Regions from separate parts of the Homo sapiens genome. Here region 2 is linked to region 1. Evidence: fine-mapped expression QTL. Tissue or cell type: nucleus accumbens. Region 1 holds a variant in brackets; the other region holds the start of a gene. All regions are shown on one strand. Distances are from middle to middle.

What was found. PIP is the estimated chance that this variant, and not a neighbour inherited with it, causes the effect. A credible set is the group of variants that fine-mapping cannot tell apart.
Region 2: it holds the start of NAALAD2, and the variant in region 1 is the best candidate, but not a certain one, in a credible set for the expression of NAALAD2 in nucleus accumbens (GTEx, PIP 0.70).

What each region holds. Positions count from the first base shown.
Region 1 is chr11:90,213,367-90,217,614 of GRCh38, reverse strand. It overlaps CHORDC1 (cysteine and histidine rich domain containing 1), which reads left to right. Exons shown (of 11, transcript NM_012124.3): 3 at 2,385-2,441; 4 at 3,440-3,597. Among named protein-coding and RNA genes, the nearest start is that of CHORDC1, 7.6 kb to the left of the region's middle. The variant A/G (reference allele first, on the strand shown) is at 1,912.
Region 2 is chr11:90,132,167-90,136,414 of GRCh38, reverse strand. It overlaps NAALAD2 (N-acetylated alpha-linked acidic dipeptidase 2), which reads right to left and starts at 1,752. Exons shown (of 19, transcript NM_005467.4): 1 at 1,575-1,752; 2 at 745-856. The coding sequence starts at 1,656. RefSeq lists an enhancer at 1,145-1,848.

The sequences.
Region 1 (4,248 bases):
ACACCCATTTCTTCACTTTTCTAATTTTGAGGGAAAATAGAGTGGTTGTATTGAATCTCAGTCTGTCACTACTGGCTAATAACAGCTCTGAATTTTAGAAAAGATTCTTATAAACATTTAGTGCCAATCTCGGGACAGACCTGTGAGTTTTCCAGCTATACTTCTTGGATGTTCTGGAGAATTGGTGGAATGTTGTTTGACTAGGTTTTTGCTGGTCATCTTTTTAAAATTCATGATAGTATGATACATTTAAAGAGTTTCCTTTGTATATCTCAAAAGATGATGCTGTGGTAGGGCTGCCATGGTTTTAGGTTCTACTTCTTTGGTTCTCAGGAACATAAGCAGTCTTAACATGTTTAAATATTGTTGGTGCCCTTTAAATGTCTAATTATACCTTCCAAAGAGTAGTTAGACTGTTTTGGCACTTCACTGTTAACACCACCAAATCTAACAAAAGATGTATTAGTCTGGTTAGTTCTGAGTGAGGAAAACAGAGAAGACATTCAGTAGGGCAAGTTGAGACCTTATTCCTCCATACATTTTTTTAGTTTTTACAAATCTTTGTTGTGGTGGAAACTGTGGTGCTGTGGAAATGTTTATTTTTCTTTTTGTGGAATTTTATTTTTCCTAGACTGCCATTTCTTCTGATATTTTTGTTTTACTGTGTCTTTTTCTTTTTTTCCCTATGCTGTTTTCCTCTTAGCTCTTAAAGGTAACCTTTGGCTGTTTTCTCTCATTCAGTTCATTCATTGGTTTTCTCAAATGTCACCTCTACGCCGATGGCTCTTACAACATATTTCTATTTATGTGTCTCATTGGCAACATCAAACCAGTTTCTAGTGTGTACCGTTTATTCCAAAAGTAGTCTGCCTCTCAACTTTACTGCTCCTAGTAATGATACTACTGACTTTCTGATCATTTGGTCCATTGCCCGTTTTTTCTCTTACCGCATTGTTAATCACTCCAAGTCTTAATGAATTCACTTTGAAGTATTTTTGCTTCTCTCTCTTTTGCAGTTGTAGTGTTTATTGTGGTCTCTATTTTATAACCATTTCTTAAAGTCCTAGACTTTCCAAGATTATTGGATTTCACAGTCCAGAAGATTTCAGACAAAATGCGTATACATCAATACAGGGATACTAGTTGACCAAGTAAGAAGTTAAACATTGCATTGACAAAAGAAATACTATTTTAATATTAGAAGGGGCATATTCAGAGAAAAGGACAATCTTGCTGAAAAAAGACAACTAGCAACCTTATATTCACATAACTTAAATTTATCTTTCCTTTTCTCATTGTACTGAAGACTAGCATAGAATCCAGATTGGCATTTGGGAACAGCTGGCCTGTATTGTATTTTACATGTGTGTATCACAGTATCTGACATAATTTAGTACATGATTAAGACAGTAAAACTTTTTCTCTTATAGAATAACTTTTCTGTTGACTATATTATTGATGCTATTTAAACCCTATATTTAAGGTTGTAGTAATTGATCTACATCTCAATTCGGAGTAAAAGATAATTAAATTTCAAATTAAAGGAAAATTTGAATTATAGGATATTTGAAATTACCTTTAAAGAAAAAGAACCTACAGGTGCATATAATGAGAAAAATCACTACCATATTTTTATGCAGTCTTTTGAAAATCAGCGAGGTCCAGGCGGATGTGTGCAAAGTTGCATCTTAATCTGAATTTAGTCCCAAATCTTAATCTGAAGTTCCAAGTTTTGAGATTTTGCATTTTTGTTTCCCTATGCTCTATAAACATTGGAATTTAGAGATAATTATTAAAGCCATTTTTTGGTAAACTACTTGATAGTTTGTTCAAAAATCACAAATACTAATAGTTTCTCTGTCTTTATGCTTCTCACTGAAAAGATCACCTTCAAAGGCTTAATAGTGCTTT[A/G]GCTGCTGTGTTAATTAATCTTTGTTGTTCTGAAAATAGAATGCTTATTGTGAAATTAAAATTAACTAAAGATAGTTACTATCTTTAACTTAATAGATTTTAAAAGTAAAATACCTATACTTATTTTGAATATTCTTTAAATATGATAGTTTTAGGAATTATAACATGTTTTTCTTCTAAAAAAAAAGCAGACACGATTGTTGAAAAGAGAAACAGTTTTTGTTTTATAAAGGTGCTTCCCTTGATGATAGGGCATAGCACAAATCACTTTAACATTGGTTAATTGGCTTTTTAAAAATCAAAGATTAATATTCATTTTACTTGATTAGGTGAATTATATGCAACACTGAAATTTTGCACTCTATACGCAAGTTACTGCAGGATTCAAGTAGATAAGTGCAAGTAGAGTGTTTTAGTGGGTCGTGTTTCTCATGCAAATAGAGTTTTTAGTTTCCTTCTCTTGTTTTTCATAGGGTTGGTCTTGCTGTAAGAGAAGAACAACTGATTTTTCTGATTTCTTAAGCATTGTAGTAAGTACTAATTATTTTTTCTAGATTATCTTCCTAAAAATACATGTTATAGAAAGCTTCAGATTTGAGGAGTCTGATTTCTGATATAGATTGATTGGTCTTCATCAACTTGCAGATAACACCTTTCAAAAAGCAGCTCATCTCCCTTCCACAGCTTGTAAAATAAAGAATCTGTTTTGGAAATTAACGTTTTAAGGTATCAGTTACCTGCTTATCATTTTAGGTTTGTTCTTTCTGTTATGTTGAAAGAACATCAAGGAGAAAGTGGTAAGCAACAATTTAAAGCCTTTTCAGTTAGGAACGATAAAGTTTTATCTAAGATGCTGTTGAAATATTTTACATACCACTTTTATATAAAACCACTTTATATACCACTAAGAAAACTAAAGCTACTAACAAACTGATAATGCTATTGATTGTATCATTTCAGAGGTGTTAAAGAGTATGTATAATTCAGTAGAATGTAGTAGAAAAGTAGCTAACGTTTGTTGAATGTTATCACCTGCCAAATGTGCCAGGCATTTTATTATTTAACTCTCTCAGAAAATATCTTACCTGACATTACCTCCATTTTACAAATGAGGAGATGGAGGTTTAAAAAGATTATCTTGCTTAAGGTCATATAACTAATAAGTATGTTGAGAACTAGGTCTCAAATTGAGGCCTTTCGAGTAACAGATTTTTCTGTATAACTATTTTTTACAGTTCTTTGTGAGATTCTCCAGAATTCTTCTGTAAACAAGAGGTTTATGCCATATTTTTAATAGAATAAGTAGATGTTTATGAAGTGTAATTCAAAGACTTTTTAAAAAAGCCGTCATTCAGAGATTCAGCAAATATGGCAAATTTGGAGTTCTGTTTTTAATTTCTTAAAATCAATGTATTGAAACTGGAGAAAACATGAAATAGAATCACTATCAATAAAGAACTGAAAAGATAATATTTCTATCATGAAATGTAAAATAGATAGCTCTTAATGAATTATCTTTCACTAACAGGGCTGTACAAAAGGTAGACATAATAGTGAGAAGCCACCTGAGCCAGTCAAACCTGAAGTCAAGACTACTGAGAAGAAGGAGCTATGTGAATTAAAACCCAAATTTCAGGAACACATCATTCAAGCCCCTAAGCCAGTAGAAGCAATAAAAAGACCAAGGTATACTTTATACAGTTACATATTTTTGTCACACTTGAATAGTAGCACTTGTGCATGGTACTTTCCTTTATGATTTAGCATGATACCATTTGTAGCTACTATGTAGGCCACCAAGCTTTGAACCATTTGGTTTCTCCCTTAAATCTGCCTTAAATTTTTATTTCTCTTCAACTTGAGAGCATGTACACAATATAACTACATAACAGATTTGCATATTGTACTGTCATAATTACAGGGACATGTATCATCAGGGTAGGGAAGTCACATTTTTCTTGTGCCTTAGAGTGCATCTTTTTCACTGTGGCATGGTAAAATTCTTTGAAGCAGTTTTCCTTTTCATGGCATGAGTTTGAAGTAGAAAATAATGCAGAGGCCTAATCATCCATCTTTACTTTCAGATGCCTGAAAACTACCGTTAATCTCATTACTACTGGTCAATTTTTAATGCATTTGATTTAGATGACATATTTGTGAAAGTAGTCTTAAAAAAGCGTTTGCTCATTGTGCAATAGAGTTGTACAGATTCTTCATACTTGCCTTCTGATAACCAGACTCTGTATTCCCACACATGTATATTGAGTACCTTTGTTGAACCAGGTCTTCTTCGTGCTACACTTGAGTACTAAATTGTTTTAGAAGCAAACTACAGGA
Region 2 (4,248 bases), 81 kb after region 1:
TGGAATATTTTTGTAGCATGATGGAGGAGGTGGTTTGTTCAGCATAGCATACGTCTGTCATAACTCTCAAATTGTAGGCTTTATAGGGATGCAGTTTATTTTATGTAAATTATACTTCACTAAAGCTGATTTTAAAAAATAACACCCATTTGAAAGAGTCTGAATACAGAAATAAATACCATGGCCATTGTTCTTAAGGAGTTTATGATCACTCCCCCAATTTCCACTGTTTTTCATGGTTAGAAGCTGGAGGAATGGCAATGATTCTTTTTGGTTTCATTTTGTCTTATTTGTAAAAAACAAATTTATACCTGCAAGATGGGATAAAGGTTTAACTTTTGGCAGACAGAATCAGACACTTTGATCACTTTTCCACTAAATCACTTAGTCAACCATCATCTAACTTTCCCTGACAGAATATGGTATCTAAGAAAATTGCTGATTAAAACCCAGGCACTGATGAACAAAGAATAACATTCAGTTAGATCCAAAGTTACATGAAGTTGAAACATCTCTCAATAAGCCAACCAGATACTTTTTGTTACATAAAGTTAGGGAAGAAAGACCTACTTTTTCACCCCAAGACTGGTGTAAAGAGACATTAAAAAAAAAAAAAAAGTTGATGACTAATATGTAATTTCACACAGAGAAGACTGTCCTCATGCATATAACCAGGTATAATATGCTTCTCACTGTGATATTTTAAACATGATTTTTAAGATCAAATACGTAAAATAAACTTACCGAAGAAATGATTTGATGTTTTCAGCTTTCATTTCGGATACCAGTTTCCACCGTATACTTTGATGATAGCGCACAGAAGTGGTCGTTTCTTTGAGAGGCTTAATAAACCAGCCTAAGGAAAAAAAATACACAAACATGCACACATACACACAAAATCACTTTGACTTTATTAAAACTAGAAGCCACCCCTCTGTCCTTCCCCCCAAAAAGCCTTTATCTGACAAGTAGATCATGGTGAGCTTTAAAAAATAATGTTTATATTAAATGCAGAAAACCTGTAAATTCTGATATGTAATATAATTTTTAGATGCTTAAAAGGAGTTTTATTTAAGAGAAGCTCTTTCATTTTCTCACGTTATGCATGAAGGCATGGCTTTTGTTGTTCTTCCCTGGATCTCTAGTCCCTGACACATAGGGAACATTCCACAAATATTTATTTACGTATAGAGCAGGGTTTTGTTTTGCTTTGTTTCGTTTTGCTTTGTTTTTAATGCTGCCCGTATTAGTTGAAAGTTTTGACTCACTAATGTTGCTTGGAAATAAAACGATTTTTTTTCATCCCTGCAGACAGTGACAGCTGTAGGTTGTCTTTAGTGAACTCAGTGAACATTTAATAAATTTGAATTTCAAGCACACTTTATCTATTAGCAAGCCCAAAATACATTCCATCTGGTTTCTAGTTTTGCTGAAATGTGCAGAGTTTATCATATCTAGCCCAGCCGGCCAGGGCTAGCGCACAGCCCAATCCCTTCCAGCTCCAGGATTTCTCCCTTTATCTCTGCAGAGAATCACGAGCCCCGGAGTCGGGGTAGAGTGTTTTGTTCACTTACCCACCATAAATCCCATCAGGAAAGATGCCAGCGCAGCAGCCAAGCACATCCAAAGGTACAGACGGCCCCTGGATTCCGCCATGGCTTCTTGAGGACCGAGCTTGGGGCGCCTGCTACATTCGCGAGCTTCGGGGCTGCAGAGAAACAGAGAGCGCGCTGGCAGGAGGCTGTGAGCTCTGGGTGGCCTCCGCTGACCTTCGCAAGGCCACGCCTCCGCCCTACCCGCTGGGGACCTGTGGTCCCCAGGGGCCCTCGATGGGGGAAAGGAAGCCCTGCAGAGGGAGGAGACATTCTTCCTGTTGGCGGGCAACTTCCATTCTGTGGATCCCGCAGTAACCCGGACATAGTAGGTGGCGGGAGCTGCTGAAAACGTCCCTAATTTTTTCCTAAAGAACTCTACTGCTGTTTGCCATGCCCATCCCCCAAAATGCCCAGTTTCGGCTCAGAAGTGAATTTAAGTATTGCTTTTCCTGATCTATTGGTTATTCTTCTTCCAGATTCTCTGCTGTAATTTCCCACTCGTCAGACTCGGAAATGATTTCTGGTCCTGGGTGCTCCGCTGTTAAAGCTGTTAACATCACTAATACCGCAATCACTGTCAGCATCAAAATCGATGGGATTGCGTTTTTTTGTTCCCCTTTACTTAAACAAAACTCCACATTTCTGTAATTCTGTTTCCACTCATTTAACTGAGGTTTTTACCTACCTCACTGGAATGTTTTAGGTTCACATTAGTAAAAGTAATCACTGAAAGGACCTTGCACTGCCAGTAGTTACTGAGAGTCTGTTCTTAATGCTAAAGCTCAGACACCAATTTCCCAAAATATGGTGCTTTGACATGCTAAACCGAAGAAGCCAGGGGGTCTCTCTGACCATACCCCTCTCTTCCAGCTCCTCTCTCTCAATCCTTTGTCTCTCCCATAGCACAGAATAAAGCTGTTCTCTAAAGTTCCCTTATCTGCCTAAAGTCCAGAACTACTAAAGGCAAAAACAAACAAACAAAAAAAAAAAGAGTTTCTTTCCTGAGTTTTCATTAACCGAACTAATATCTCAGGAAGAAGGACTGCAGTCTGTCAATACAACTGGCAGCCTTCTGTTACAAACTCTCGTCTGCCCTGTAGGGCCAACAGACTTTGTCCCAGGCCATTGCATATTCTTCAAGCCCATTGAATTTCCCTAAAATTCATTTACTACCCTCTTAAAATTATACACACATTCTCATCTTCCTTTCCTCTAAAAAGATGGGTATATTATCATCTGTACCTCATTGGTTATTGGGTAATCATTCTACTACGATTCCCTTATGCTATGTTATTCATAAATTTGTAAGCCTTTTTTTTTTCTAATAGTCTGCCTTTTGTGAGTTGATTTTCCAGCAAAACTTCAGAGGGTGAAGGGGAAGCTTTCCATTGACCCCTACATTAGCAATGGTCCCTGTCATTCCCCTGTCCTCACCATGCTACATTCATGAAGCATTTCTCTTTAAAGATGGGTTTGCAAAATAGTGGCCATTGTAAATAGCCTTCATCCAACCATCTCATCTCAGAGAAAAATTTTAGGAATTTATGATTGGCTTCACGTATCTAACCAAAAGTAGTTTTTTCAGCCAAAGCAAAACTGCTATGTTGATTTCAAAGATGGTAGTATATCTAGGATAAACTTCACAGCATTGTCTGCAGCCCTGATAGCTTTAGGTAATGCACCTTTGCTCCTAACAAGTGACTGGAAGAGTGAAATTTATTTTTCTGGGACATAACTTTTTTTTGTCCTTGTATTTCAATGGCTATCAATTGAACATAATTGTTGATAGGTATGCCTAATAACTTATTTCTTGAAACTTTTGTAGCATACCTGGTACTTAACTTTGAAGCAAACCTCCTTAATGAACTGTTGATTTCTAAATGTTTGCATGCAATTTAAGTCCCAACTAACTTCAGCTTTTTCAGCTACTAGCCTGTTAGACATTCCTTGACTGACTCCTCCAGTGTTTTTTATTTTAGAGAGAAACATCTTTCAAAAAACATTTTCATAACAAAGTGAGTTTGTTCCCCCTTATATGCATACACACAACACCAAATATAGGGAATTAGAATAGAATTATTCAAAAGGTTCAATATCCAGTGAAGTAACTAAACCCCTCAAATATGGCTTAAGAAACATTTTCCAAGAGCACTCAGAATTATTTTTATGTGTGACATTATGAAATAATACTGGGATTTTAATAACTCTCCAGTGTTTAACAGGTGACACACAAAGGTCTCAAACAATATCAAATGTTATTTTTGTACATATAAACATTTTGGGTATTGATTGTGTAATTTGTCAATTTTTAGACTCTTGGCTTTTTCTATTTGCTACCCATTGGACCATTCACTGTTGACTACATAGCCCTCAAGAGGCAGATCAAAATTATCTCCAGGAAAAGATTTACTGAAGAAAGAGAAGGTAGAAACTAATGAATAAAGTTGCTAAGCTATTTATTAAATTTATTTTTTCTTGCTCATTTTGTGTTTTTTATTGCTAATTGAAGTTTGAGTAATAGAATAAATCAATGCATTATTTAACACAGTTTGCCAGTTTGAATAATCTCCCTAAATTAAAATTAGATTAAAGAGTTCCAAGAATGAGCAATGTTACCTCAAATATGACTGTCGTCTCTGTAGGCGGCATCTGC